Linked DNA regions of Homo sapiens. The protein of the gene in region 1 purifies or fractionates together with the protein of each later gene. This does not show direct contact. Each region holds a gene or a part of one and is shown in the gene's direction. Other genes may lie near its edges. The genes, in order: DTL, SHPRH, CARNMT1, UBE2E2, COPS3, PANK4 and CCT6B.

The links.
Region 2: the proteins of DTL (region 1) and SHPRH purify together in Homo sapiens (affinity purification with western blotting, with the first as the bait; 2 studies listed by BioGRID). This does not show direct contact.
Region 3: the proteins of DTL (region 1) and CARNMT1 purify together in Homo sapiens (affinity purification with mass spectrometry; 4 studies listed by BioGRID and IntAct, with this or other methods). This does not show direct contact.
Region 4: the proteins of DTL (region 1) and UBE2E2 purify together in Homo sapiens (affinity purification with mass spectrometry, with the first as the bait; one large-scale study listed by BioGRID). This does not show direct contact.
Region 5: the proteins of DTL (region 1) and COPS3 purify together in Homo sapiens (affinity purification with mass spectrometry; 2 studies listed by BioGRID). This does not show direct contact.
Region 6: the proteins of DTL (region 1) and PANK4 purify together in Homo sapiens (affinity purification with mass spectrometry, with the first as the bait; one large-scale study listed by BioGRID). This does not show direct contact.
Region 7: the proteins of DTL (region 1) and CCT6B purify together in Homo sapiens (affinity purification with mass spectrometry; one large-scale study listed by BioGRID and IntAct). This does not show direct contact.

What each region holds. Positions count from the first base shown.
Region 1 is NC_000001.11:212,042,079-212,046,016, forward strand, and holds part of DTL (denticleless protein homolog), read left to right. Parts: intron 1-914; coding exon 915-1,040; intron 1,041-2,581; coding exon 2,582-2,680; intron 2,681-3,938. UniProt on the Homo sapiens protein: Substrate-specific adapter of a DCX (DDB1-CUL4-X-box) E3 ubiquitin-protein ligase complex required for cell cycle control, DNA damage response and translesion DNA synthesis.
Region 2 is NC_000006.12:145,922,466-145,926,403, reverse strand, and holds part of SHPRH (E3 ubiquitin-protein ligase SHPRH), read left to right. Parts: intron 1-107; coding exon 108-200; intron 201-1,557; coding exon 1,558-1,665; intron 1,666-2,618; coding exon 2,619-2,761; intron 2,762-3,567; coding exon 3,568-3,741; intron 3,742-3,938. UniProt on the Homo sapiens protein: E3 ubiquitin-protein ligase involved in DNA repair.
Region 3 is NC_000009.12:74,996,894-75,000,831, reverse strand, and holds part of CARNMT1 (carnosine N-methyltransferase), read left to right. Parts: exon of another isoform or gene 1-955; intron 956-961; coding exon 962-1,102; intron 1,103-2,055; coding exon 2,056-2,234; intron 2,235-3,449; exon of another isoform or gene 3,450-3,512; coding exon of another isoform or gene 3,513-3,577; exon of another isoform or gene 3,578-3,938.
Region 4 is NC_000003.12:23,531,795-23,535,732, forward strand, and holds part of UBE2E2 (ubiquitin-conjugating enzyme E2 E2), read left to right. Parts: intron 1-759; coding exon 760-907; intron 908-2,358; coding exon of another isoform or gene 2,359-2,420; exon of another isoform or gene 2,421-3,938.
Region 5 is NC_000017.11:17,271,137-17,275,074, reverse strand, and holds part of COPS3 (COP9 signalosome complex subunit 3), read left to right. Parts: intron 1-3,938. UniProt on the Homo sapiens protein: Component of the COP9 signalosome complex (CSN), a complex involved in various cellular and developmental processes.
Region 6 is NC_000001.11:2,523,616-2,528,217, reverse strand, and holds the start of PANK4 (4'-phosphopantetheine phosphatase), read left to right. Parts: upstream 1-1,621; 5' UTR 1,622-1,630; coding exon 1,631-1,754; intron 1,755-2,025; exon of another isoform or gene 2,026-2,617; intron 2,618-4,602. UniProt on the Homo sapiens protein: Phosphatase which shows a preference for 4'-phosphopantetheine and its oxidatively damaged forms (sulfonate or S-sulfonate), providing strong indirect evidence that the phosphatase activity pre-empts damage in the coenzyme A (CoA) pathway.
Region 7 is NC_000017.11:34,951,300-34,955,237, reverse strand, and holds part of CCT6B (T-complex protein 1 subunit zeta-2), read left to right. Parts: intron 1-638; coding exon 639-812; intron 813-3,184; coding exon 3,185-3,288; intron 3,289-3,938. UniProt on the Homo sapiens protein: Component of the chaperonin-containing T-complex (TRiC), a molecular chaperone complex that assists the folding of proteins upon ATP hydrolysis.

The sequences.
Region 1 (3,938 bases):
TTTCAATAGATTGTAAACTCAGTGTTTCCTCCAATGCTTATTGAACATTTGGTTTTCAGTAATTACTTGTTGAATGAATGTTTATTTTATATATTTAAAATGTCTTGATCACAAATCAGTATAATAAAAACAAATCTCTGAAGATGTCTTTACTATGTAGGAGCATAGTGCACATTAGACCTCTGACCCAAGCAGAATAAACTTTTCTTCTACCCTGAGTCTCTTGTTCTCTGTTCTAAATTCAGTGAAAATTTACCCATCTTTCAAGACCTCCTGTAAAGACTCCCTGACCCACTACCACTAGCCAGGGCTAATTAAATGTTTTCTAGGGGTAGGTACATAACACTTCACTTTACAATTTCTCTAATATAATTTAAGGTACTATAATTGCTGCTATTGACATTTTAGATTCCTACAATTTCAGCACTAAAGGAAAACAGAAGTAAATTTGGTGAATATGTTACTGGCTATAGTAGCTGCATTGACATATTATTTTCTTTGGCTCTTTGACCATTGGATTTTGTATGATGTTCTGGAATAAGAATTTAATTGAAGGGGATAGCAGTTTTAATGGAATGCTTTTGTGGTTGTCTCTTTGGTAGGAGAAGGGGGAAGATCTTTCTTAATATGCAGAGGCCTCTTGTTTCTTCTAATCTCAATGTACTAGTGAGAGTCTCCATTTTAGATAGTAAGCCCAAAGCTATACCTCCCCAGAAGTTGGAAGTGCTCTTTCATTTTTTCCTTAGGACTCCTTAATGAAATAACAGAAATGGTGTCTTCCATAGATATTAATAGTAAGTGGATCTATGTTAATATCTAAAGTTTCTTAAGGACAAATATTTACCTCTGAATTTGTTAAAAATGCTGAAATGTGATGCTGTATTGGAATTCTATAAGGAATTATCTTGTTTTAGGATGGTCTTCACAATACCCTCTTCAATCCCTTCTGACTGGTTATCAGTGCAGTGGTAATGATGAACACACTTCTTATGGAGAAACAGGAGTCCCAGTTCCTCCTTTTGGATGTACCTTCTCTTCTGGTAAGAGAATTACTATCTAGGCAAGGCTTGGACAGAAATGATCTATTTCACACTTATAGGGAAAATATACTAGAGTATTTCCCTTTCAAAGAAAAGTAAATTAGGTGGATGTTAGAGTTTTTGTAAAAACTGTTATCTTCTGATTTATAAAATAGACTTTTCTTAATCTCTATACATCATTAGCATAACTATATTTCCTCTAAAGCATAGGACTATTATAGCACTATTTTTAAAAAATCAATATAAGGAAGGGGTTGCAAAGGTTCAGCTACTATGAAAACTGTTTTATCCAGTAGATACATACCCTTTGATCTGGTTGAATGTATCTTTCTGTGACTCATTGGGGAATATATGAACAGAAATAGAAGTACTTCAGCCAGGCTCAGTGGCTCACACCTAAAATCCCAGCACTTTAGGACGCCAAGGTAGGTCTGGGCACAGTGGCTCACACTTGTAATCCCCGAACTTTGGGAGGCCAAGGCGGGTGGATCACTTGAGGTCAGGAGTTCAAGGCAGCCTGGCCAACATGGTGAAATCCCATCTCTACTAAAATTGCAAAAAATCAGCTGGGCGTGGTGGCGCACCCCTGTAATCCCAGCTACTTGGGATGCTGAGACAAGAGACTCACTTGAACCTGAGAGGCAGAGGTTGCAGTGAGCCAAGATCGTGCCATTGCATTCTAGCCTGGGTGACAGTGAGACTTCATCTCCAAAAAAAAAAAAAAAAAAGAAATAGAAGTATTTGTCTCCACCCATAATAGTTTGAGAGGAAAGAAAAAGTTGTGACAAGGAAATTTAAAACTAATAGACTCCTTATAAAAATTAGCCGGGCATGGTGGTGCATGCCTGTAGTCCCAGCTACTGGGGAGGCTGATGCAAGAGAATCGCTTGAACCTGGGAGGCGGAAGTTGCAGTGAGCTGAGATCACGCCACTGCATTCCTGCCTAGGTGACATAGCGAGACTGTCTCTCAAAAACTAATAGACTATTACATAGTCATGATTGTGGTAAAAATAAGTAAATAAAAATATGGTTAAAAAAACTAATAGACTCAGCCTGCTGGCAGCCTACATCATCATATGCCTTTGTTTGCCATTGGCCAGTACCACTCTTGTTTTAAGTACTACCCTCGATTTAGCCCTTCTCTAAATAAGAGATTATCTGAAGAAAATTTTGGTGGTTTTGAGTAAGCTTAAAAATTTTTGTAGCTAGGCATGGTGGCTCACGCCTGTAATCCCAGCACTTTGGGAGGCTGAGGTGGGTGGATCACTTGAGGTCAGGAGTTCGAGAGCAGCCTGACCAGCATGGTGAAACCCCATCTCTAGTAAAAATACAAAATTAGCTGGGCGTGGTGGCGCATGCCTGTAATCCCACCTACTTGGGATGCTGAGGCAGGAGAATCACTTGAACCCAGGAGGTGGAGGTTGCAGTGAGCCAAACTGCACTATTGCACTCCAGTCTGGGTGACAGAGCAAGACTCCGTCTGAAAAAAAAAAAAAAAATTGTGTTACTCTATATATTTTTTTCTTTATTTCTGCTTTAGCTCCCAATATGGAACATGTACTAGCAGTTGCCAATGAAGAAGGCTTTGTTCGATTGTATAACACAGAATCACAAAGTTTCAGAAAGAAGTGCTTCAAAGGTAAGTCTAGGTCTACAATTTTTGTTTTAACATTTAAAAAACTTTACACATCCTCAAGTATATTATTATTTGAACACATTCTGTTTTAGTCTGTCTTCTGTTGCTATAAAGGAATAACTGAGACTGGGTAGTTTATATAGAAAAAGTTTACTTGGTGTGTGATTCTGCTGGCTAGAATAGTAGACATCTGGTGAAGGCCTCAGGCTGCCCCCACTCCTGGCAGAAGGCAAAGAGGAGCCCATGAATACAGAGGTCACATGGCAAGAGAAGGGTGTACTACCAAGCTCTTTTTTAACAATCAGCTCTCCAGGGAACTAATAGAGTGAGAACTCACTCATCTTTTCACCTCTTAGGGAGGGCGTTAATCTGTTCATGAGGGATCCACCCCCATGACCCAAATGCCTCCCATTAGGTCCCACTTCCAACTTTGGGGATTAAATTATAACATGAGATTTGGGAAGGGACAAACATCTGTAGTATATATAACACATTCCCAATGATATTAACTTCTGATTAAGTCTTTTTAGGGACCAGATTAGATGTGAATGGTGGACTGCCTATCTGTCAATAACTGTTAACTGTGACAATGCCTTTACTCAAAGTTAAGAAAAATACTTTTTAGGATTAAAAACAATTCTTCAAAAAGTTAAATCTTTAACACTTAATGTGATTAGAGAAGTGTTGCTTTAAAATACTTATATTAATCAAGCATTTTTCATGTTTAAAGCAAAGTTCTAACCTTAAGAAGCTGATAATTTGGAACCCATAAGTCAAGTGTTGAAATAACTGAAATAAAACAAAGACTATAAATGATGTAGAAGTAGAAAGAAAACACACTGGTGTCAAAGAGAAAGCTCTCATGTAGTAAAGAAGGCTAGGAAAACTTACGAAGCATGGGGCATTTGAGTTGGATTATGGTATTTAGACCAGTGGAAATGGAAGGGGGCACTCCAGGTGACGGGAAAAGCATTAGCAAAGGTCTAGAGATAGAAAAGCATAGGATATAATAGGAAGTGACCAATTTGTTTGGAATAAGGTATCGAGAACAGTGAGAGATGAGGCTTGCAACCAAGATAAAGACTAAAGAATGCAAAATGTTGAATGTCAAACTAAAGTATTTTACATTCCATTCAGAGAGCATCATGAAGTTCTTTTTGTTTTTGGTTTTGTTGTTGTTGTTGTTGTTGTTGTTGTATTTTTGGTAGAGATGGGGTTTCACCACATTAGCCAGGCTGGTTAACTCCTGGCCTCAAGTGAT
Region 2 (3,938 bases), on another chromosome or scaffold:
TATGATCTTAATGTGGTGTTAGTGTTCTGTGTGCCATATTAATATTAGGTTCTCTTCAGAGTCTTCTGCATTGACTGTCATAATTACTGCCTTTGATATGTTTGTAGAGACTTCATGCTACCCATAACTTGATGGAATTGTTGATAGCCAGGCACCCAGGGATACCACCTACCTTGCGTGATGGCCGACTTGAGGAAGAGGTAATTATTTTTTTCATTCTGTCTATAAAAGTATATTTTCTTCAAACTTTATGCTCCATATAGTTGATATATCCTAGGACATACAACATACAAATAAATGTAATCATGTTTTCCTGTTACTTTGATGTTTCGAATTTTGTTGTGATTTTGGGTAGCAGAGAATGGCAGCAGTACGTATTATTTGGCTTCTCTGCTGATCTACCTGCAGTTATGTGATAAATGCTTGTTGTAGATATGGCTGTTGGTAGCCAACAGAATGGGATGTAAATAAATGAGTTTTAAAAAAGAAACTTTGATCTCATGGCAGATCTACAAAAGAGGTAGCTTAGTAAATATACAAACTTTTGCACTTTCTCCACATTTCTGTGTATTTTTTAAGGGGGTAAATAAAGTCAAATTTTTGGTGGTAGTTCTCCCAAAGAAGTTTCCTCTACAAAAAGTGTCGCCTCTTTTTGAAAAGAATGACATCGAAAAGAGTGATATTATAAATTATTTTACTATAAATTGTTAATAGCTTATTATGCAGATTCTTCCAGGGATTTTTGCTGTTGTTAAACATTAAAGAGCTAAAATCAAAAGAGTAGGTATGTTTGAAATGTATTGAACCTGTAAGTGGAGGCTTTATTTGAGTCAACAGGATAAAAAATGAGATTATATAAATAAGCACAGCCTTTTTGCACTGGTTGTTTTGGGGGCGGAGGTGCCCTGGTAAACTATTTTAATTAACAAAAATTTTATCTATTCATGAGTAGAGACTGATGTTTTGATGTATGTAGACACTAGAATAGCTAAATCAAACTAAATCAATTACCTCTTTATTTTTATTGCATGCATGTGTGTGTGTGTGTGTGTGTGTGTGTGTAGTGAGAACATTTAAAATCTACTTTCTTAGGGCTTCAGCATATGAATTTTGGGGAAACAAAATTCAGTTCCTAACACCTGTGTTACTGTGTATTCTCAAGGATTATTTTTAAACTGCAGTAACTAAGGAATTTTAATAACTAAATTAGCCAAATTTTAGAAAGGTGTCTTTGCTTTGCCTATCATTTGAAATATTACTGTTCTTTTTTTCCCCTCTTTGCTTATTCTAACTAAAAAAAAAAATTAAATAAGAAATTGGCAAACAAATATTCGGTGTTTCTGAAATTTTGTTACTTGGACAAGTAAATTTTGTTAACTTCCATATATAAGGAATTTTTAGCGTGACTTTTATGTTCTCTACAGTATACTTGGACTTTTATGTTTAAATGCAGTTAAGTAGCTTTAAATGTATAAAATGACCCATTCTTCTTGAAACATCATACTGAATTATATTCTAGATTGGGAGTGAAAGTTTATATTCTCTGTTTCAACACAGGCCAAACAGCTGCGAGAGCACTACATGAGCAAGTGTAATACAGAAGTTGCTGAAGCCCAGCAAGCTTTATATCCTGTGCAGCAGACCATCCATGAGCTTCAAAGAAAGGTATGCCAAAATGCAGTGTTTCTTACTTGTATTTGCCTCCAGATATCATTTTGAGTTTTGGTTTTTTGGTGGGGAGAAACTTGAATTTCTTATACATTTTGAAATCCTTAGCACCTAGCACATTGCCTGACCCACAATACAAGTTTATTTTACTGTTAGCAATGATTTATTGGTTGAGTGAACAGATGCATAAATAAGTCAACTATTTTGAGTTCTCTTTCTTTTGAACTCATGGGTTTTCTCTTACCATGAGTATATAACAGTTGTCTTTTGAAGAAAGTAAAGACTTCTATAACCTCCTTTTTATCTTGTTTCTGAGATGTTTTAAAATGTTAATACATTAGAACCACAGGTATTTTTCCTGCAGAATATATACCACTTGTCATTTCTAAAATTTCAGTTTTATGAAATCAGCAGCAAAATCTAAAGAGGTTACACAAATACACTTTTATTTTCAGTTTTTAAATCAGGTGTTGCAAATTTTTGTCTTTCTAATTCATTCATTATTTAGTATTCTGGGATATAATTTTGTGAGTTATTGTGGATTATTCATTAAGTAGAATCTGGTTCAGTTAGTTAAAGATTAGAATGAAGGCTTTCTTTCTTATGCTGATAAAGAGACCTGTGACCTTTTCACACATATAGATTGAGTATTGAATTTTCATTTGGCGTAAACAGTTTTTTTAGTTACAGCTTTGTTATATAAATGCATTCAATAAATTCCCATTTATCCAGAGTAGTTAGGAAATAGGGGTTTCTCTTTAATTATATTTTCAAAAGAGGAAGCGAGCATTGTACATGGAATATGTATACTCGTCTCCCCTCTGTGATAGTCCCTTTGAGAATAGCATTTATTACTTTCTTTGAATTTTGGCATCACCCTGCCCAGTGATGGAAGCTTAGTGAGTACTAAAAAAAATGTATTAATTGATTAACTGCTACCTTTTTTACAGATTCATTCTAATTCTCCTTGGTGGCTAAATGTGATCCACAGAGCAATAGAATTTACTATTGATGAGGAGCTAGTTCAGCGAGTGCGAAATGAAATAACCAGCAACTACAAGCAACAAACTGGCAAGCTTTCTATGTCAGAGAAGTAAGAAAACAGGAAGAAAAAGTATCTACTCATAATTTTAAAAGCAAAGAAATCCTTGTATTTTCTAGTTTCTAATTTCTCATTATTACCGGCTTTTTTTCTCCATTCATAAACCTATACAGACACATTCATACTTCTTTTTTGCAGCCTTTTTTATTCACAGTTTATCAAAATGGTTATAGGTACTATAATTGGGTTTAACTCCTAACTGCGACCTACCTTTGTTACTTTAGTTACTTTAATATTTTACACTTCATAATGTGAGCACATTAGTAACTATTGAAATTATACAGGAAAAGTGCTTGGCAAAGTGCCTCGTATATAGTGCATAATTACAGATTTAATTAAGTATATATACATATATATATATATTCAACCAAGGAATATAACTCTTAGCCATTTTTCTTCTTTCTTCCCAATATTCTGCTTTTATGTTTCATCCTGCAGGCACCTCCTCATATAGAGCAAGGATGTCAGGAAGGCTATCTGTAGTCAGGCTTAAAACGGAAGAATGTGGCAGTCGTACACTTTCAAAGATATCTGAGACAGACATACATTTTTCATGCTCTTTTTCAGTTCCTGAGCACAGGACTATCAAATTTTTTTGGTATCTTTTACGGTAGACAGCCCAATATTATACTTTGAATACATTCTGAAGGAAAACTCACTCAAATGTTGCTGTTAAAAAAAAAAAAAACAGCAAACAGTTTCTTTAACACTTTGTTTGGCAACCATTCTCTGAATTTGAGGAAATTGACCTATTATTCTTTTCTTTGTATTGTGTGTGGTGCTGGTGTGGGAATCAGGTTCCGTGATTGCAGAGGTCTTCAGTTCTTACTTACAACACAAATGGAAGAGCTAAATAAATGCCAGAAGCTAGTAAGAGAGGCTGTAAAAAACCTGGAGGGACCTCCATCTCGTAATGTTATTGAGTCTGCAACAGTCTGTCACCTCCGACCAGCCAGACTTCCTCTCAACTGGTAGGTAATAGAAGAAATCATACAATGAAATGGTACCATTTCTTTAAGCTAGATTTCTTAGAGAAGAAACAATTGACTCATATAGTAAAGGTTTTTTCATTTTAATTGAGACAGAAGTAGAAAGAGATGTATTAATCTAATTTAAAGAAAAATAAAGTCTCAAGGACAAGGTATGAAAAACCATGTGATTTGTTTTT
Region 3 (3,938 bases), on another chromosome or scaffold:
GTTGCTGCTTGGAGCATGCCAAACTTAAAGGCCACATAGTTAAAGATAAAAAAATCATTAGTAGGAGTAGATTTGGAAATTGGATTTGATTTGTGAACCAAATTTAGGAAATACAGTAGTGAAGTTTCTTTTTACTTCCTGACATGATATTAGCTGATTGTATACATTTTCCTTTGGCTTCTTATAAGACTACAATTTTAGTTTCCTCGGGATTATATTGATTTGCCAAAATTCCTGAGAAAAAGCCTTGTTTTGGTAAAACTTTTAGTGGTTTGAAAGTGGAATGATGGATCTTACGTGAAGGAAATATGTAATGGCAGTGTGGTGCTAGTAGGTAGAGATCAGTTTGGTTGTGAACCTCTGGTTTGGTGTAATATATTTGTTATCATGTATGTTTAATTAGAGGGCCGTTTCCCATTTTCCCCATGAAAATATCCCCTCCCCCAAATTCTTCTGTCAACTAAAATATATAGGGATTTAGAGATATACCTGACACATTAAACTCTACATCTGTTTAATCTAACATAAACAATTGAGTTACATATAAAATTTAGAAATAAAGTTATGTTGTATTTATTGTCCCATATGATGAAGTACTTTTGTTCAAACTCTTCATATTTAATTGGGATCCCTTTGGAATAATTTGTCTTTCTAAGATAGTTGTTCAGGGTGACAGCTATTAGGAATATGAGTGACTTTATAAGTCTTGAGATGTAAGGGGACTCCTTTTTTCTGAAAAATAATTTTTGAGGGGTAAAACCCTCATCTGATATCGGAACATACATAATAATTCCTTATACCTTTTATTTTTGATATTTAGAAGTATTTCTTGATTGTGAGAAGTCAGAGTCTTAGCTTATTCTTATTGAGTAAATGAGTAAGTTTTTAGTTGTTAATGTGGATTTTGTCTTTTCCTTTTTTTCTTTGAGGGGTTGGACATAATTGCCTTATTTCATTTCAGGGATCCTTCTAAAGTAAATATTCTGGTACCTGGTGCTGGACTAGGAAGACTGGCCTGGGAAATAGCTATGCTAGGTTATGCTTGTCAAGGAAATGAATGGAGTTTTTTTATGCTCTTTTCTTCCAACTTTGTACTCAACAGGTATTTAATTTATTTTTTGCTGGAAATAGTAATTTCTCAGAATCAGATTGACTTACCTATTTTCTTGAACAATTTTGAATTTGAAGATAAGTACATAGCATTTGATTATTATATATATCACAAATGTGTCTTATGTTAAAATCAAAGTACTTACACAAATTATCACTTGAACCAATTGCCTAGTTATTAGAGTGTTGAAACAAGATGGGTAAGTGACTTTATAGAAAGTGACTGGGCATTCCATGAAATGATTTCTGTACAAAATCTTCAGGACTAAGTATGAACCAGGAAGGAGTATTTCTAAATTTATTCCTTAAGCTTCTTTACTTCCTTGTTTCTTTAGTTAAATAAGAGTTTAGTTTAGCAATTATAACTTTTTCTCCTTAATCAAGTTCTTATAAAATGGCCAAGTATGCTCTCATGACTGAGTTGGAAAGATCTCTCAGAACTTCTGTGGCCTCTTTTGGAAGGCAGTGGAAAACAATTGTTATTTTTAAAGCCAGAAGATGTACATTGAGTAGCTGCCTTGTTTAAATAATATGTTGTCTCGGATGGCAGTATGAGTTTTAGGGGATTGGTGAAAAAGGGAAAAAAGAAGAGGGTTATACAAAAAATAGCAAACTGTTTTAGTTGAAACCAGTACCATTTTAAAAAACCTCGTTGGACTGTTATTACTTGGTTTTGAAGTTTAGAAATACATTTTTAAAAATCTGAATGAACAGCACATTTATATCTCTGAATTTACTTTTTTTTTCTGTCTTTAATCCATTGATTGGTTGCTCATCTACATGTATATGTACATTTTCAGATAATTAGGGAAGCTGTAATAGTGACTCTTTAAATATTAATTATATATGCAAATCTTCAATTAAACAGTATATTTTTAGTATTTAAAGTGGATTTTCTTGGTAAAATATTTAGTTAACACCTGATTTTATACTCATATTTTGCAGATGTTCTGAAATTAATAAATATAAACTTTATCCTTGGATCCATCAGTTTAGCAATAACCGGAGATCAGCTGATCAGATTCGACCCATCTTTTTCCCTGATGTTGACCCCCACAGTCTTCCTCCTGGTTCTAACTTTTCTATGACAGCAGGAGATTTTCAAGAGATTTATTCAGAATGCAGTAAGTCCAAATCAAGCGTTTAAAAAGTCTTGTCCTTTATTCTAAATTTAATGAGCTAGTTTTATCCTAAGCCAAGGTTTAGATCATTCATTTTGATGGTAGAACATAAGGCATATGTCAGTGTCAATTTAGAATGTTTTCAAGGTCGTGTACAAGGCAGTGATAGGAAATAAGAAGTGTAAGATATCTACAGTCAAGAAATTTAGAATCTGTTGGGCCCATTAATACTAAGAGATACCATGTAAACAAAGGTTAAATGAGTAATGAATACCAAAAAAATGAAAGGTTATTAGTGTAAGAAGGAAGCTGTTCATAGTGAGGCTATGACTTGAAGGTTGAGAGAATAGCATTTGAGGCAGACAGAAGTACAAAGATATGAACAAGGTGATTGGGGATGGCAGCACAGCTGTACTGGCAGGGAAAGAAAAGATTTAATGGGAGATTTAATGAGATTTAATAGGAGCTATTGCTAGAAAAGTGAATTTGTTCCAGATCATGGAGGACTTGTATAGTCAGGCTGCACAGTTGACTTCAGCCTGGCAAACTGTTGAAGAAATCTGAGCTAGGCAGGAGAGAAAGGGAGATGGTAATAGGGAAAGTGGAGAGGGAGATTGGCACTAAAAGGAAAGCAAAATAGAATACCGAGGGTTCAGCAAGATCATTGAGTCAATAGGTATTTGTTGAGCACCTACTAAGTACTAGGTATTTTTCTAGGTGTCAAAAGAGAACAGTGAACAAAACAAAATCCCTGTCCACAGAGAACTTCCAATAGAGAAAGTGAGGCAATAACAAATACAATATTGTAAGGAAGAAAAAATAAGGCAGGGAAGACGGGTTACAGAGTGACTGGGGAGAGGCTGCTGCTTTATATAGAGTTGTCAGGGAAAGCCTTTCTAAGAGTAGAAACTAAAAAAAAAAAATGTCTAGTAGAGAACCTTGAAAGAGTACACAGACAAACCACTGAGATATTTGAAGGCAAAATTTTGCAGATGGGGAATGGCAAGGGAAGAGGATCAGGGAGTAGAGTGAGTGCTTGCTCTGCTCAAGGAGGAGCTAGGCTGTAGTAAGCAATGGGTACAGTGGTGAGAGGTCAGCCTCGAGAGGGTTTGATGAGGCAAACTTGTTGGCAGGCCATAGCAAGGACTTGGAATTGTACTCAGAGAAACAGGAAGCCATTGGAGGGCTTAAAGCAGGGATAGCAACAACATAGATTGTTTTTATTTATTTATTTATTTTACAACATAGAAAGTTTTTGTTTATTTTTCTCTGAACTCTGAGACTGGGACAACCTGTACTCTGAAGGAAGAAAGGGAGAGATGGAAGATGTTAGGTGTTGTGGATAAGGAATGAAATAATGGAAAACATCACTTAGGCAAGTAAAAGTCCCCTTTTTCTGGAGCAAGGTTTGAGAGAACAGATGATGAAGGTAGTCCTCCATGGGATCAAGTGCCTTTATTGCACCAGCATTTGTATAGACACCATACCTCCTAGAGGCAAACGGTGTTCTCTACTGGGTTCCCACCCACTGCTTCTGCCTGCCCCTGGCTCCCCTTTTTCCCTGGTAATTATTCGAAGTTGTGGTAGATGTTGAAGTATTTGGATGTCATTCATTTCTCAGTTGGCAACTGGTGCCTGCAGTCTTTCTGAAACCTGCCAGAATTGGTGGTTAACACTAGTTTAAATTTGAATGACTATTATTTTGTT
Region 4 (3,938 bases), on another chromosome or scaffold:
CTTACACCTGTAATCCTAGCACTTTGGGAGGCCAAGGCAGGCGGATGACTTGAGGTCAGGAGTTCAAGACCAGCCTGGCCAACATGGCAAAACCCTGTCTCTACTAAAAATACAAAAATTAGCTGGGTGTGGTGGCGGGCACCTCTAATCCCAGCTACTTGGGAGGCTGAGGCAGGACAATCGCTTGAACCCGGGAGGTGGAGGTTGCAGTGAGCAAAGATCACGCCACTGCACTCCAGCCTGGGCAACAGAGCGAAACTCTATCTCAAAAAAAAAAAAAAAGAAAAAAAAACTGTTATAGAATAATATTTATTTTCTTTGTATTAGTACTCTCATGCTTTTTGGTGTTTGAATATTATAAATGTACAAAATCCTTAAAATAACTGGAATCTAACAAAAGTTTTCTTTGAAATTTTTTAGAAGTCAGAGTCAGTTTCTCCCCATGAACATTCCTGTAGTTGTATCAAAAGTAAATTCAGTCCCTAAAACATTTGTTAAATAACAGGACTCTTTATAAGAAGCAGAATGTCATGGTTTTGCTGTTGATGTTTATTTCTCTGTGCCCAAAATGACAAATTCTAAAATGATGATCTCTGTTGATTAATCTCATGTGCCCAAGAAAAAAATCAAGTGTATGTTAACCAATAGCCTGGGCTATTTTGTCTGATAAAATAGGCAATTTTATTAGACAAAAATTGTCTATAGATACTGTTAATAAACACTTTGTCTAACAAAATATAACTTTACATTTTCTTGTAGGTTACCTTCCGAACAAGAATCTATCACTGTAATATTAACAGCCAAGGTGTGATCTGTCTGGACATCTTAAAGGACAACTGGAGTCCGGCTTTAACTATTTCTAAAGTTCTCCTCTCCATCTGCTCACTTCTTACAGATTGCAACCCTGGTAAGAGACTTTAAATCTAGTATGAATTGGAGCTTGTCAAGATTTAAATGTCAGACCCTTAGTAACTTGTTTACTACTGCTACTACCACTACCACCACTGCTTCTACTACTATTATTGTTAAATTTTCATAGTATGTAACTATTTTCTTTTTAAATTGGGTCTTCTCATTAGTGTTTTTAAGACCTATCATTTGCCAAAAAGGAAAAAGTATAGTGTGGTAAAAAAAATAATGAAAAATCATTTTAGATGGGAAAGTACGTTTAAAGAATGAATTAAGTTATCCTGCCAAATAATAATAAAAATTCAAGTTGAATAGCTTAATCTTTAATTAGATGCCTACTAGAAGATGTTAATTTGAGGAATGTGGGCTATTAAAATCTGATAACAACCAGGCAGCACCATGCAGACGTGACCTTTTTGGCATCCTAGTAACTGTGCATCCTGACAAGCTATTATAACGGTCCTGAATGGTCTGTTCTAGGAAATACCCCAAAAGTAAACAAGGAAATACACCTCCCAAGAAAACGAAAAAGTCTATAGCCAGGCCTTTATGGCTTGCTGGTGTGCTTACCACTGAAAATTCTTAATTCCTGGGCCATGTCTTTACAAATTGGGTTTATTTTAGAAAATACAAAAATCCAAAGATAGCTATAGGGTTTTCATTGATGTTCTCAGTGGGAGAATTATTTTATGAGTAATTAATAGCTTAAATATTGCATGAGATTCCCTCTTCTACAATCATGAGTAAACTCTGTTCACTGGATACATGAAATTTTACACAAATGGAAATGACGAGTATCAGTGGGGTTGCTTAGGATCCTGGCTGTTTTATAAAACATCAAGAAATAACAGTCTTTCTACTTTTATATTTCTTTATTTTTCAGCAGTAAAATCTTTTTTAAAGTAGCAAATTAGTATTTTTTTTTTTTTTTTTTTTTTGAAACTGAGTCTCACTGTGTCACCCAGGCTGGAGTGCAGTGGCACGATCTTGGCTCCCGCAACCTCCGCCTCCTGGATTCAAGCGATTCTCCTATCTTAGCCCCCCAAGTAGCTGGGATTACAGCCGTGTGCCGCCAAGCCCAGCTTATTTTTGTACTTTTAGTAGAGACGGGGTTTCACCGTGTTGGCCAGCCAGGTCTCGAACTCCTGACCTTGTGATCCGCCCGCTTTGGCCCCCCAAAGTGCTGGGATTACAGGCATGAGCCACTGTACCCAGCCTGCCCAAAAAATAAAATTGTGCAGGATCATTATAAAATATTTTTTGAATTAATTCATACTTTACTACAGACAGTAAAGTCCAATAATGTTATACTAATTTAAAGTTAATTTTGTTCTTTCAGTCCTGTTGTTCCCATTTTAATCCCATTTGTCTGTGACTGTGTATAACCTTGTATAACCTCATTTGGAGGTAATGTTGCAAGAAGGCTTTTTTTTTTTTTTTTTTTTTGAGGTGATTTCGAAGCCTGGCCTGCTTTGCCTCCAAGTCAGCTGAAATGGAATCTGTTACCCTGAATAAGCCTGTATATGACAGCCTGTTCTCTCTACAGATATTCCTGCTTAAAGGAATAGATTCATTCCACCAAAGCCTTCTCTCAGCAATCAAAAAGACTTCTGTTCAGTGAACTAGTTTTTTTTTTTTGCTCCGTTTCAGAAAATTACAAATGCATTCTGCAAAAACTTAAAAATCACTCCTAACTAAAGCAGAACCACATAAGTAAAAGAAATAGATTTTGAAATAATGCTATTGATAGTAAGAACAAGCCTAAAAATAATGTTCCATAAAACCAAAGACAGCCTGCCTCATATGAGACTAGAAGAGAATTTGTAAAATACATGCTAACATTTAGTTTATCACACTTTTTAACACATAAAAATAAAGTTTCCTAATTGGTTTTTATGAATGTTGACACTTCTAGAATCTTAAATAGAGTTGTTTATTTTAAAGTAGTCAAATGTCCATTCTTTTGCTTAATGGACTTATTTCACACTGTTATCTGGTACACTTTCAATCTCTGTAGGTTTTTTTACCTACAGAGGTAGGAAAGATTAGGTTAGATTGAAGTTTATCTTAAATCTATCTTCAAATTATCACAAAAACAAGTTTGATAGAATAGGAATAAATAAGATTTTCCTACACTGAATCTGTAGAGCTATTTTAACCCGGAAATGCTGTCACCTCAAAAATAGGCCTTGTATAATGATACAAATTTAACTCACTTAAAAAATACTTTCTCACTCTTATCCATACATAAACTTATTTTCTAAATCTTTTTCATACTCTTTTTGTAATTTGCACTTGTCTCTTTAAAGAATTTTTGGTCCATTCCAACACAGATGTTCTTTAGGGTATGACTACCCATCCTTATCAGCATGATATTTGTAGACAGCAGATGTAGATTTGAAAACCAGTTTAATTGTTTATTAGTCATATCACATTGGATGGGTCACTTAACTTTCCACAGGCTTAGTTTTTGATATAAAATTGGGATTAGTACCAGCCCTGCCTAAATCACTGGATTCCTCTGAGGTTAAAATGAGATGGTATATGTGAAAGCCATTTATAAATGGTAATGTGTTGTTGATATTGTTACCCAGAGTATTTGGGACACCAAATGGGCCCACAATAGGTGACCGATAAACACCTACTCAGTTGAATTTAACTGGGGAGATAGTATCGAATAGTATCTAACGCCGTCACCTCAACATTGACACTTGGATTTTACAATCGAAAAAAGCTGAACCTTGACTTAGTAGGATTATCACTCAGGTGGCAGATGTCCAAACGTTATCAGCCAGTCGATGGGTGCACCAGCAATAATCATTCTGTTTTCAATGCAATTGTCTAGGTAGATCTAACTGCTGGTCTTATTAGGCCACCACTTCATGATGGTGTTTATTGAGCCTGATAGAGCATTCTTTTTTTTTTTTTTTTTTTTTTTGAGATGGAGTCTCGCTCTGTCGCCCAGGCTGGATTGCAATGGCACGATCTCAGCTCACTGCATCCTCTCCTCCCGGGTTCAAGCGATTCTC
Region 5 (3,938 bases), on another chromosome or scaffold:
TTTGAGAACATACTAAGGGGGCCAAGAGTGAGAGCTATGGGCTGGCTGGAGGTGGGCAGCAGCTTAAGTTAAAGATGCTGCCACCAGCTGTGTGGTCTATCTGAGAATAACACTGACAGAACAACTGATAGGCAGGACAAGAGGAGTAGAGTGGTGAGAAGAGGGAGGACTCAGGTGATCCTTCCCAAGTAACTCAGACTGCCATGAGAAACACTCCAAGGAGGCACTGGTGATAGGTTTTAGGGGAGAAATCATGTAAACTTAGCACTATTAAGGCATTGGTTGTAAGTAAATTTCAAATTCTTTAAAAAAAAAAAAAAGCACGATTGAAATGTAATTTCAAGAAAAATTAGGCCAGACACAGTGGCTTACATCTGTAATCCCGGCACTTTGGGAGGCCAAGGCGGGTGGATCACAAGTTCAGGAGTTCAAGACCAGCCTGGCCAACATAGTGAGACCCTGTCTCTACTAAAAATACAAAAATTAGCCGGGTGTGGTGGCATGCACCTGTAGTCCCAGCTACTCGGGAGGCTGAGGCAGGAGAATGGCTTGAACCTGGGAGGCGGAGGTTGCAGTGAGCTGAGACAACGCCACTGCACTCCAGTCTGGGTGACAGAGTGTGAGACTCTGTCTCAAAAAAAAAAAAAAGAAAAGCTAATCATAATTTCTACTACATCTTTTGGTTTATCTGCTTCCATCTATACTGTATTATTTGACTTAACAATGTCACCATACATCTGTATTTACACTTTGTAATTATCAAGACATGTCAGAAACAATTTCATCTGGGGTTCACAATAGGTCAGTGAGGCATTGCGACTGCCAGTTTATAAATAAAAATATGAAGCTCAGGGCCCCACAACTCAAAATTGGAAGAATATGTAGATTCAAAACCAGGGTCCTCAGCCAGAAGCTCAGGGTTCTTTCCATACCTTATCTAACATATACAACGGTAAACACCTTATACCTTCAAAATGCATTCATGTCCATTACTCACCTGATATATATGTTTATGTGAGTTTATGTGTGTATAAAACATGCATGCTCTCTGTTCTTTCTTGAGATAGGGTCTTGATGTCACTCAGGCTGAAGTGCAGTGGTGCAAGCATAGCTCACTGTAGCCTCGACCTCCCAGGCTCAAGCAGTCCTCCCACTTTAGCCTCCTGGGTAGCTGGGACCACAGGCATGTGCCACCACACTCAGCTAACTTTTTTTCTTTTGGGGGGACAAGGTCTTGTTCTGTCACCCAGTCAGGAGTGCAGTGGCATGAGCACAGCTCACTGCAGCTTCAATCTCATGGACTCAAGTGATCTTCCAACCTCAGCCTCCTGAGTAGCCAGGACCACAGGTGTACACCACCACGCCCGCCTAATTTTTGTGTTTTTTTGTAAAGACAGGGTTTCATCACGTTTCCCAGGCTGGTCTTGAACTCCTGAGCTCAAGCAATCTGCCCATCTCAGCCTCCCAAAGTCCTGGGATTACAGGCATAAGCCACCATACCTGGCCACTTTTTTTTTCTGTAGAGATGGGGTCTTGCTATGTTTCCCAGGCTGGTCTCAAACAGAGCCTCCCAAAGTGCTAGGATTACAGGTGTGAGCCACTGTGCCCAGCATCTGCTCTTTCATATAAATAAGAAAATACAGACAGTAGAAATCCTTACCAGCACTGTCCAATAGAACTATCTGCAGTGGTGGAAATGTTACAAACCTGTGCTAAGACAAGGACATGTGACCACATGTGGCTACTGAGTACTTGAAACATGGCAAGTGCACCTGAATCTTTAATTTTAATTTAAATAGCTGCATATGGCTAGTGGCCACCATACTGCAGAGCATAACTCTAGATCCTTCCATTCTGACAAAGCTTCTTCTCTAAACTCTGCTCCGGACACATACCTTTGTCTCAGGAATCCCAGCGTAAGTGAAGCCAGACTCTCACTTTAAGTCAATTTCTTCTCAGTTTATTTATATCATTTCAAATGTCATGACAACCACAATATCCCAATTTATAATACTATAACATCAAGAGAAAAAGAATTCTACTGTCAAGTACACGGTTACAAGGAACCCCAATTAAAATAAGGTCTATTTAATTTGGTCTTAAATAGCTTAAATTTGTTTGAAGGGAATTCTAAGCAATGTTGCTTTGGATCTTTGATACTTTTTCTTTTTTTGAGAAAAGGTCTCACTTTGTCATGTAGGCTGGAGTGCAATGGCTTAATTGTAGCTTACTGAAGCCTTGAACTTCTGGGCTCAAGCAATCCTCCCACCTCAGCATCTTGAGAAGCTAGGACTATAGGCATGTACCACTACACCCAGCTAATATTTTTATTCTTTGCAGAGATAGGGCCATATTATGTTGCCTAGGCTGGTCTCAAACTCCTGGCCTCAAATGATCCTCCGACCTTGGCCTCCCAAAGTGTTGGGATTATGAGCAACTGTGCCCAGCCAATATTTTCATTCAATGTATTCTGCCATGCCCTGTGGCAGTACTCCTCCGAACTTCTTTTTAATTTAGAAAATGTGGACATTCCTGTGGATTACATGGATAAAAGTATTCAGATAAATGCAAACTATAGTCCCCACAATTGAGATGGCCATTTTTTAAAACAAATTTTCAGGATTTGTATAAACATAAAGGAGTTTTTTTTTTTGAGACGAGTCTCACTCCGTCACCCGGGCTGGAGTGCAGTGGCACGATCTCAGCTCACTGCAAACTCTGCCTCCTGGGTTCAAGCAATTCTCCTGTCTCAGCCTCCCAAATAGGTGGGATTACAGGCACCTGCCACCACGCCCGGCTAATTTTTCTATTTTTTGTAGAGATGGGGTTTCACCCGATTGGTCAGGCTGGTCTTGAAATCCTGACCTCAGGTGATCCACCCGCCTTGGCCTCCCAAAGTGCTGGGATTATAGGCGTGAGCCACCGTGCCTGGCCAATTTTTGTATTTTTAGCAGACATGGGTTTTCACCATATTGGCTAGGCTGGTCTCGAACTCCTGACCTTGTGATCTGCCCATCTGCCCACCTTGGCCTTCCGTAGTGCTGGGATTACAGGCTTGAGCCACCATGCCCAGCCTATTTGGCTTCATTTAGTGGAATTTTTCATCTTGAAAGTTGTTCCTTATTAAACATATATATATATATAAAACATATATGTTTAATATATACATGTTTATTATTTAATATATATTATTAAACATATGTGTGTGTATGTGTGTATATATATATATATATAGATATATATAGATTTTTTTTTTGAGACAGTCTCGCTCTTGTTGCCCAGGCTGGAGTGCAGTGGCACCATCTCAGCTCACTGCAACCTCCACCTCCCGGGTTCAAGCAGTTCCTCAGCCTCCCGAGTAGCTGGGGTTACAGGCATGCATGCACCACCACGCCCGGCTAATTTTTTTGTATTTTTAGTAGAGACGAGGTTTTTCCATGTTGATCAGGCTGGTCTCGAACTCCCGACCTTAGGTGATCCTCCCGCCTTGGCCTCCCAAGGTGCTGGGATTACAGGCATGAGCCACTGCGCCAGGCCTAAACATATTTTTCTTAACCCTTATTTGTGTCCGTTCTGTATAGTGATTGTGCAAAATAACCAGGTCAGGAAAATCTCATGGATTCTAGTTCTTATTTATTTGTTTTTTGAGACTGGATCTTGCTCTGTCACCCAGGCTGGAGTGCAGTGGCATGATCATAGCTCACTGCAGCCTCAACCTTCTAGGCACAAGTGATCCTCCAGCCTCAGCCTCCCAAGTATCTGCAACTACAGGCATGTACCCCCACGCCTGGCTAATTTATTTTTTGTAGTAGAGACAGGGTCTCACCATGTTGCTCAGACTGGTCTCAAACTCCTGGCCTTAAGCAGTCCTCCTGCCTCAGCCTCCCAAAGTGCTTGGATTACGGGCATGAGCCACTGTCCTGGCCTAGTTCTTAATT
Region 6 (4,602 bases), about 210 Mb from region 1:
GGCAGTCCTGGCAGGAGCCTGCACGGGGCCATCCCTTGCCTCAGAAAGGGCATGTATTTTTAGGCAGGCCACAGGGTGTTGGCTGAGTCTGCAAGAACTGAGGCCTGTGGCTCCCAGGGACCAGCTCCCAAGGGGCAAAATCCATCCAGCAAGGATTGGGCCGGAGTGGGCCGCATTCCCACCCCCGCTGAATGGTAGCCCCGTGTGTGGGCCTGCCCTGCCTGCTCCTTCCTGCTCAGCCCCTCTCGCTCCGCTCAGCCTTCAGCCCCTTTCTGGCTACTCCACAGGCAGTCTAGACAGGGTCCCCCCACCAGACCAACCCAGTGCCTGCCAGTGGTCCCTACCGAGCCCCGGGGTATGGTGGGCAGAGGACAGGGAAGGCCCCCATTCACCTGCATGTTTCCCGCATGTTCAGTGGGCACACAGGTGGGCGCCCCTCATGGAGGGCACCTCCTGCCAGCCTGGCCCATGGCACACCATGCTGCCAGGGGTCTGAGCTGCCAGAGGTCTAAGCCGCCTGGGGTGTGCTCCACTCTTCCACCCAGGCCTCCCTGGGGCAGGCTCCCCCTCCAGAGCCACACACCCACCCCCTTGGAAGACACAGGCAAGGATGCCTCCTCCCTGAAGGCTTGCCCTGCGCACACAGATGCATTATCCCTGGAGTTTGTGCCGCCCCACAGGCCTGTGCTCCCAGGAGCCCTGCCAGGCAGCTGGTGGCATTCTCCACGTGCAGACAGAGGCTGAGGGCCAGAGACATGCAGTAATGACCCCGGGTTACCCGGGAGGGGCTGATCTGTCTGCTTCCAACACTGGGCTTTTTCCCAAGGCGCCCAGAGCCTCTGGAGAAGACGCATCTCTTCATGCCAGCAGGGCTTCCCAGCCACTCACCCTGGAACCCTGGCCTGCCCCACCTATACCCCTGTCCTGGCTCCAGCTGCTTCCAAGGCTTGTTCCTGCAGCCTCCCAGGCACCTGTCTTGCCCACAGGCAGCCTGCCTGGCTTCCCCCGACCACAGCACTTTCCACGGATCGCCATTACAGCACACATCTTCCCTACCCGCAGGTGCATGCCAGGCTGGGGCTCCTCCCAGGTGGGGCAGGGTTCCCCACTCCTCTGGTTTGCATGGGACTTTTAACATTGAAAGTCCCACGCCCCTGGGAAGCCAGGATTGAGTCACCCTAGCAAAGAGCGCATCACATTCGCCCTGGCGTGCAGGGCCAAGCTTACAGCAGGCACTCGCTGAAGGGCAGGGCTCTCTGACAGTCTGCAGACCCACGTGCCCCCTTAGAAGCAGGTGGGCGGCCTCTGCGGCCTCCCTCAGCAGGGCTCAGAGCACTTGAGTTAAGCCTGTGGACAGCGCGGTAAAAGAACATCAGTCCAGATGTTCTGTGCTGATGCGCGATCTCTGGAGGATAACCGCCCGCCCGCCCGCAGCCCCGGGCCTCTCGGACCCCTGCCCAGCACTGGCCCTAGCTCGCCCTGTAGCGGCCGAGACCTCAGAGGCCGGGGGTGGGGGAGGGAAGGGGCGGGGCCGGCGCCTCATTAACATAATCTATGCGAGGGGGCGTTTGGCAGTCAAATATATGCGCATATATCTCCATGGCTGATGAGCTGGCCGGGCACTTTCAAAATGGCGGAGTGTGGAGCGAGCGGCAGCGGGAGCAGCGGGGACAGTCTGGACAAGAGCATCACGCTGCCCCCCGACGAGATCTTCCGCAACCTGGAGAACGCCAAGCGCTTCGCCATCGACATAGGTAGCCGCAGGCCGGGCGCCGGGCGCGGGCTGCGGGGGCGGGCGGGGCGCCGGCGGTGGGCCGGCGAGCGGGGGCGGCGGGAAGGACGAAGGGCGGGGGCGCGGGCCTCGCGCACAGCCTCACGGGCCTTGTAGTCCGCGGGCCCGCGCACAGCCTCACGGGCCTTGTAGTCCGCAGGGTCGCTGATGCGCGGGCTCGGGGCGACGGCCGGACTACAGCTACCGGCAGGCGCCGCAGGGACCAGAGCGGGGCCTGCCGGGCCTGGTAGTTCGCGCGGCCGTCCTGGGTGGCTGGGGGCCGGGGTCCAGCGTTACCCGCCGCGAGGTGGGAGGGTCGGCGGAATTTTATGTCTTCGGCCACATCGGCATCTGGGCGCCCCGGCTCCGCCGCTTGGCTGGTGGCTGGCCTGAGATTTGGGGTCCTTAGTTCTGGTCGAGACGAGGACGAGCTCGGCGGGAAGCCCTTGGCAGAGTGGCCCCGAAAAGGCCGCGCGTTCCCGCGGCGTGGCCAGCTGTGGCCCGCGGGCCGGACAGTCCGTGCACAGGCCCCGCTCTCTGGAGAGTGGACGCCGGGCGTGAGTTCAGGCGGCCGTGGACGTGGGACCTGGGAACTCGTGCCTCTGGTTTAAAAGCCACCCGTGCCTTCCGTGGCCTTTAAGGCGGCCTGCACTTCTGCCCTGGCCTCTCCAGGGTCCGCTGCAGACCCTCCTGCCTGATGGCTGTGCTCTCAGTAATGACGGCGGGCCAGGCTCTGTTCTAGACCTTTTTCCCACGCTCCTGACTCCCGGACACCTCCCAGCCACCTCTAGGGGAGGAACGCGAATTACTCCCTTTTCGCAGATGAGGATACCAAGCCCCAGAAAGGTGAACTAATTTGCCCAGGGTCATCGGGCTAGAAAGTGGCAGAACCAGGATTTGAACCAGCCACTCCCTGCTCTCCTACTCTGCCCATGTTTCAGGCATGAGGGCTTCCTGGGGGCAGCTTCACCTGGAGAAACCCCCCTTGAATAGCCGCTGCGGCTTCACATACCTCTCCCTCTTAGCACTCATCTCGGTCGTAGGCTGAGTCTGCTTGTGTGTGAATCCCACAAGAGCAGCGGTGTGTCTTGTAGCCCCAGCCCCCGAAAAGGATGCCCAACCTGTCTTTGCCGCCCAGTAAATACTGGGATGAATGGGCCTGCCGCTGACTGCTTCCCACCTCCCTGGAAAAGCTGGGACTCAGAGAGACCCAGGCCATTCCCTCTGAGCTGTGTGCTCCTGGTGCATCTGACATGTTTGCTGCTGTGGTGTCCTCGGGGTTGTTGGTGTCATCATCTCTCTGAGATGTCCAGCCAGGGAAGGGTGTCCTCTAGGGAAGTGGGGGGCGATGAGAATGGAAGTAGCTATAGGTCCTGGCTCCCACCTTTCAGTGAGCTTATGGGAGGCAATGCTTCTTAGGGGGTGTGGCCTGGTGCCAGGTATGAGAACGTGTGAGTAGCATCTTTAGGGACCGCTGATAGGACTTGGGACTGACTGGTTATTGGGCTGCAGGTGCTGAGCTTGCAGCCCTAGCCTAGGGGATTGTCTACCGCAGGCCTCACCAGAGGCTCCCCAGCCATGCTTCCCAGCCTTCTGAGACCTTGAGGCCCGGTAGAGCGTGTGCTCTGCAAGGTTCTGCTGCCCTTACACTGGGGGATTCTGTTACTGGAAGCAAGTCGGGATTAAATGTTTCTGAAATGCAATTGCAGTTGACCTGCATAAGTCACTTGGGGAATGGCCAGGAGAACAGGGCTCACCGTGGATGTTCTGTGTGGCCCCGAGAGGCCAGTGAAGCCGCAGAGCTGGGGCTGTCCAGGAAGGGCTGTCGCAGCCCTAGAGGGCCCTGGAGTACCAGCCTGTTCTCCAGGCTGAGCCCAGGGGGTTTCTTGGTAGAAGGATACTCTAAGAGGTCTGTTTAGTGCTGGTATTTATTTCCCCTCTTCAAAGTTTCTCCCTGCGTCTGGGTCCTGTGTCTCTGGTTCTTAAGAGGACCTGTTGACTGATACTGAGAGACCTTTTGTTTGTTACTCCTGACCGAGCTGCTGGGAGGCCACGCTCAGGGTGGGGTGTCTTCAACCCAGGAACCCTCAAAGCCAAAGTGCTTGTCAACAGTGTTGTTTAAAAGCAGGCTTCTCCCATTTCCTCTTCCCTTGCCTGTGTCTGGATCTAGGAAAGCTCACCTGCCCTGTGTTCTGGCAAGCTGTTTTCCTCTCGATGGGACGCTGATGTCTGCTGAGCAGATTCACCTCTTTGAAAGCAGCAGGGACGTTGTATTTCTCAAAACATACTGCAGCTTCGATCTGATTTTAGGTTTCTGCGGGCTGTGGGGAGGGTTCCTCAGAGGCAGGTGAGACAGGAAGGGGCCACGGGGCGGTGGTGTCTGCTTGGCTGTCCTGCCCTCCATTGGTGCCCAAAGAGGAAACACAGGACCAGAGAGAATGGCAGAGGGGATGGGGCCTGTGGGACAGGGAGAACTAGAAGGCCATGGCTCAGATGTGAAGAGCACAGGTGACCAAACCTCTGGGAAGCCCCCTTCCCCCACCAGCTGTTGGCCTCAGGGCCGAGCGCGGGCAGCCCGGAGAGCCGCCAGGAGGCACTCCTGTCACTGCCTTGCCAGGCGCGGTTTGCTGTGATTCCGAGGGGTCCCTGAGCTCAGCCCGGAAGGGTCCCCGCCCGCAGGCGGTTCCCTCTGCTCTAACAGATCTCCCTGCTGTGCGTGCCCCTCGCGCCTCAGGTCCCGTTTTGTCCCCCCGGGTGTGGGGAGTAGGCAGACGGAACACTGGCCTTGCTGGGCCTCTCCGTGCAGGGGTCTCAGGGAGGGAGGATGCGTA
Region 7 (3,938 bases), on another chromosome or scaffold:
TTGCACTCAGTTGTCGTGTTCCTTTAGTATCCTTTAAGCTAGACTAGTTCCTGAGCTGCCTTTTATGCTTCATGATATTGCTACTTTTAAGCCATTTATTTTGTAGAAAGTCCCTCAGTGTGGATTTGCCTATTTCCTCAATTAAACTTAGGTTACAGATTGTTGGCCAAAATACCATAGAACTGTTGTGTTCTACTGAATGCATCATGTCAGCAGGCATGTGATGCCTGTCTGTCTCATTATTGTGATGTTAACTTTGATCACTTGGTGAAGTGGTAGACACCACAGTGTTCTATCTGCCACTTTTCCCCAATTCAGTGGTGGTTCTTTTCCTCTGCATTGAAAGGAATCTTTTTATGTGTGCCCATTCAGAAGGGCACCACATAACAACAATGTAGTCATAATTTTTGGAAATAAAAAGGACTTCTGTAATTTTTAATACTAGACTTGAAGCCTTACTGTTAAGGTTGAGATTATTTCAAGTATGAAGCACTAAAATGACTTTTATAAATTATGTACACTTATATTTCATGGCATTAATGTGAGTAACTTTTTTTGAACATAATAATCAGACAGGTTGGTTACTTTTACATTGGGTGACTTATTTTATAATTTATAATTTTATGTTGATGTAACAGGGCCTGCACCCTAGAATAATAGCTGAAGGATTTGAAGCTGCAAAGATAAAAGCACTTGAAGTTTTGGAGGAAGTTAAAGTGACAAAGGAGATGAAAAGAAAAATCCTCTTAGATGTAGCTAGAACATCATTACAAACTAAAGTTCATGCTGAACTGGCTGATGTCTTAACAGAGGTATGTTATTAAACTTTTGCATTCAGAACAAATATAGCCTAATGCATGGTGATATTTTTCTTTTTCTGTAAGATAATCAAGTATTTCATGTGGTTTTTTGGGCATAAAATATGGAAGACAGACAATTATTGTATAGGCCTAACTGTAGATTAGATTTGACTGGTCAGAACAGTATTTGTAATTTTCAGAAGTATCATACTAGGCCTTTTTTTAAACGTGACTTGAAAGGTGGGAGAGGTTTGGCTGCCTGCAGATCATCTCCTGTGGAAGCTCTTGAATAGTATACTGGTCTTTTTAAATCTAGCAGTCCATATTTTATTATGTGAGGTGACACACAAGATAGTTGTTTTAGCAGTGTACCTTGTAGATAAGGTTACCAATATAATGAAATGTGATATGATATATTAATATATTAATATTCACATATTGGAAATGTATGTTTGTTTAGTTTATTTCTTTTATTAATTTATTTGAGACAGAGTCTTACTCTGTCACTCAGGCTGGAGTGCAGTGTCATGATCTCAGCTCACTGCAACCCCCGTCTCCCAGGTTCAAACGATTCTCCTACATCAGCCTCCCGAGTAGCTGGGATTACAGGCGCGTGCCACCACGCCTGGCTAATTTCTGTATTTTTAGTAGAGATGGGGTCTCACTATGTTACCAAAGCTTGTCTTGAACTCCTGACCTCAAATGATACACCCACCTCGGGCTTCCAAAGTGCTGGGATTACAGGCATGAAGTCACCACATCTGGCCAGTGTTTTGTTTATTTCTAAAGGTAGAATATATGTTATATAGGCTGGGCATGGTGGCTCATGCTTGTAATCCCAGCACTTTAGGAGGCCGAGGTGGGGAGACGACCTGAGGTCAGGAGTTTGAGACCAGCCTGGCCAACATGGTGAAATCCTGTCTGTACTCAAAATACAAAAATTAGCTGGGCATGTTAGCAGGCACCTGTAATCCCAGCTACTTGGGAGGCTAAGGCAGGAGAATCACTCTGGGAGGGAGGGGGAGGTTGCAGTGAGCTGACATCATGCCATTGCACTCTAGCCTGGGTGACAGAGTGAAACTTTGTCTCAAAAAAATATATATATATATATATATATATTTTATATAAAGACAAGATTGGCTGGATATTTTGGGAAGGCTTTTATCAGGTGGCAATGATTTGATATCATTATTGTTTTTCAGCTTTGTAATTTCTGAAACTTGAATATATTTGTTTACCAGGAAGAATGATAAATTCTTAGGAAACAAATTCACAAGACATTGACATACAAAGCAGAATACTACCTTAATAATTTACTTTGAGAACTACAAATGCCAAATGTACTGGAATACTTGAGTTGTTTCTGATCGATTCTCCTTACCGTTAAAAAAAAACAACTTGGGAAATCAGATTAAGATCAGACAATTTCTTGATGAGCAGAGTCAGAAGAAAGGCTCTGCTGTGTTTTCTGCTGTTAGAGTACTTGAATGGCCCCAAATCTTCATGCTGCTAGGGCACCCATTCTGTTTTAGAGTTACAGAAACAGTGATATTCTCACTATCCAATGGCCTTTGTCCTATTTCTTATTTGCCTCTAAAATAAAATATTATGTCACCTCAGGCAAAGTTTTCTAAGATACAGTTTTTTCTGCTTTATGTATATTTTAGGGTAGTTATAACTTAGCCCTTAATTTCTGCAGTTATTTATTATTTTTATATCATTTTCTGAGCTAAGCAATAAGACGTGTTGTGCTATGCTTCTTAAATTGTATATCCCTGGTCATATGTGACAGAATAAATGAGACGTAGCTTTCTGGAGTGTCAATTTTACTTTACAATTTTGGGGGAAAACATTATTTTTACATTGAGATAAACATATTATGGGATGACATGGAAACTTTTCACGATAAAACATGAGACTTTAACGTTTCCTGTTATTACAGCCAGCAAATTGGAGCTATTACCTTAGATTACCTTTCCTTCTTTTCCATTAAGGTGTCCTTTGGTGGAAAAGTTTGGATAGTCTTGGTATGATAGAAAGAGTAGTCGCTGGGCAGTTAGGGAGCCCTGAATTCTAGTCCCGGCCCTGTTACTAGCTGTTAGATCTTATTTAAAAACTGTGACTTCTTAAGGTCTTATCTCAGTTGCCTTATCTGTAAAATAAAAGGTTTGGACCTAATGATCTCTGAAGTTTCTTTAGACTCTAAAGTGTCTGTTGGCATTGGCTATTGTTAGCATCCATAGTAAAGTGGCACATATTGGTCTTGCCCTAGGTTTTGAATCCTGAAGGCTTTTATCTCCTTAGTCTGGTGATAGATTGTTTGGGCCCTTGGTTTATTTTAGTAGTCCAAATAACTTAACTGTTCTCATTCATTTCTCTTTCAGGTTGTGGTGGATTCTGTTTTGGCTGTTAGAAGACCAGGTTACCCTATTGATCTCTTCATGGTAGAAATAATGGAGATGAAGCATAAATTAGGAACAGATACAAAGTAAATTACATAAGCTTTGACAACATATGGGTTCTAGAATTTTTTAAAGATATTCTTTTATTAAATTCATTACTTACTTTTATTCAACATAAATATATTCATTCACCATATATTAAGTCACTGCTCTAGGTAATGGGAATGAGAGTAAACAGAACAGAATTTCTTTCCCCAAGAAGTTTATGTTTCTAATTGAAATAGAAAAAAAATCATGTGTGTGATTTTATAGTGGACAGGGAAGACTACTCTGATAAGAACCTGGAGAGCTAAGAGGTCTCTGAAGAAACAAGGGAGCTAGCCATGTGCACATCTGGAATAAGAGGGTTCTAAGCAGAAGGAATGACCTCTGAAAGGGTCCTGAGGCAGAAGTGTGACTAGGTTGTTACAGTGTGCCTGGAGCACAGGGAGAGGAGGTGAGGCAAAAGGGACCAGATTATGGAGTACCATGTTGATTTTGGATTTACTCTTTTAAAACTTTGTATTATAGAAAACTGTGAACATATATAGAGAGAACAGAATAGGGAATTTCCACATAACTGTTAGCTATCTTTATCAATTTCTAACATATGAAGCATACCCTTCCCTCTTTCCCCCTCCCACCTAGGATTATTTTGAAGCAAATCCAGACATCATATACCACCTGTAAATATCAT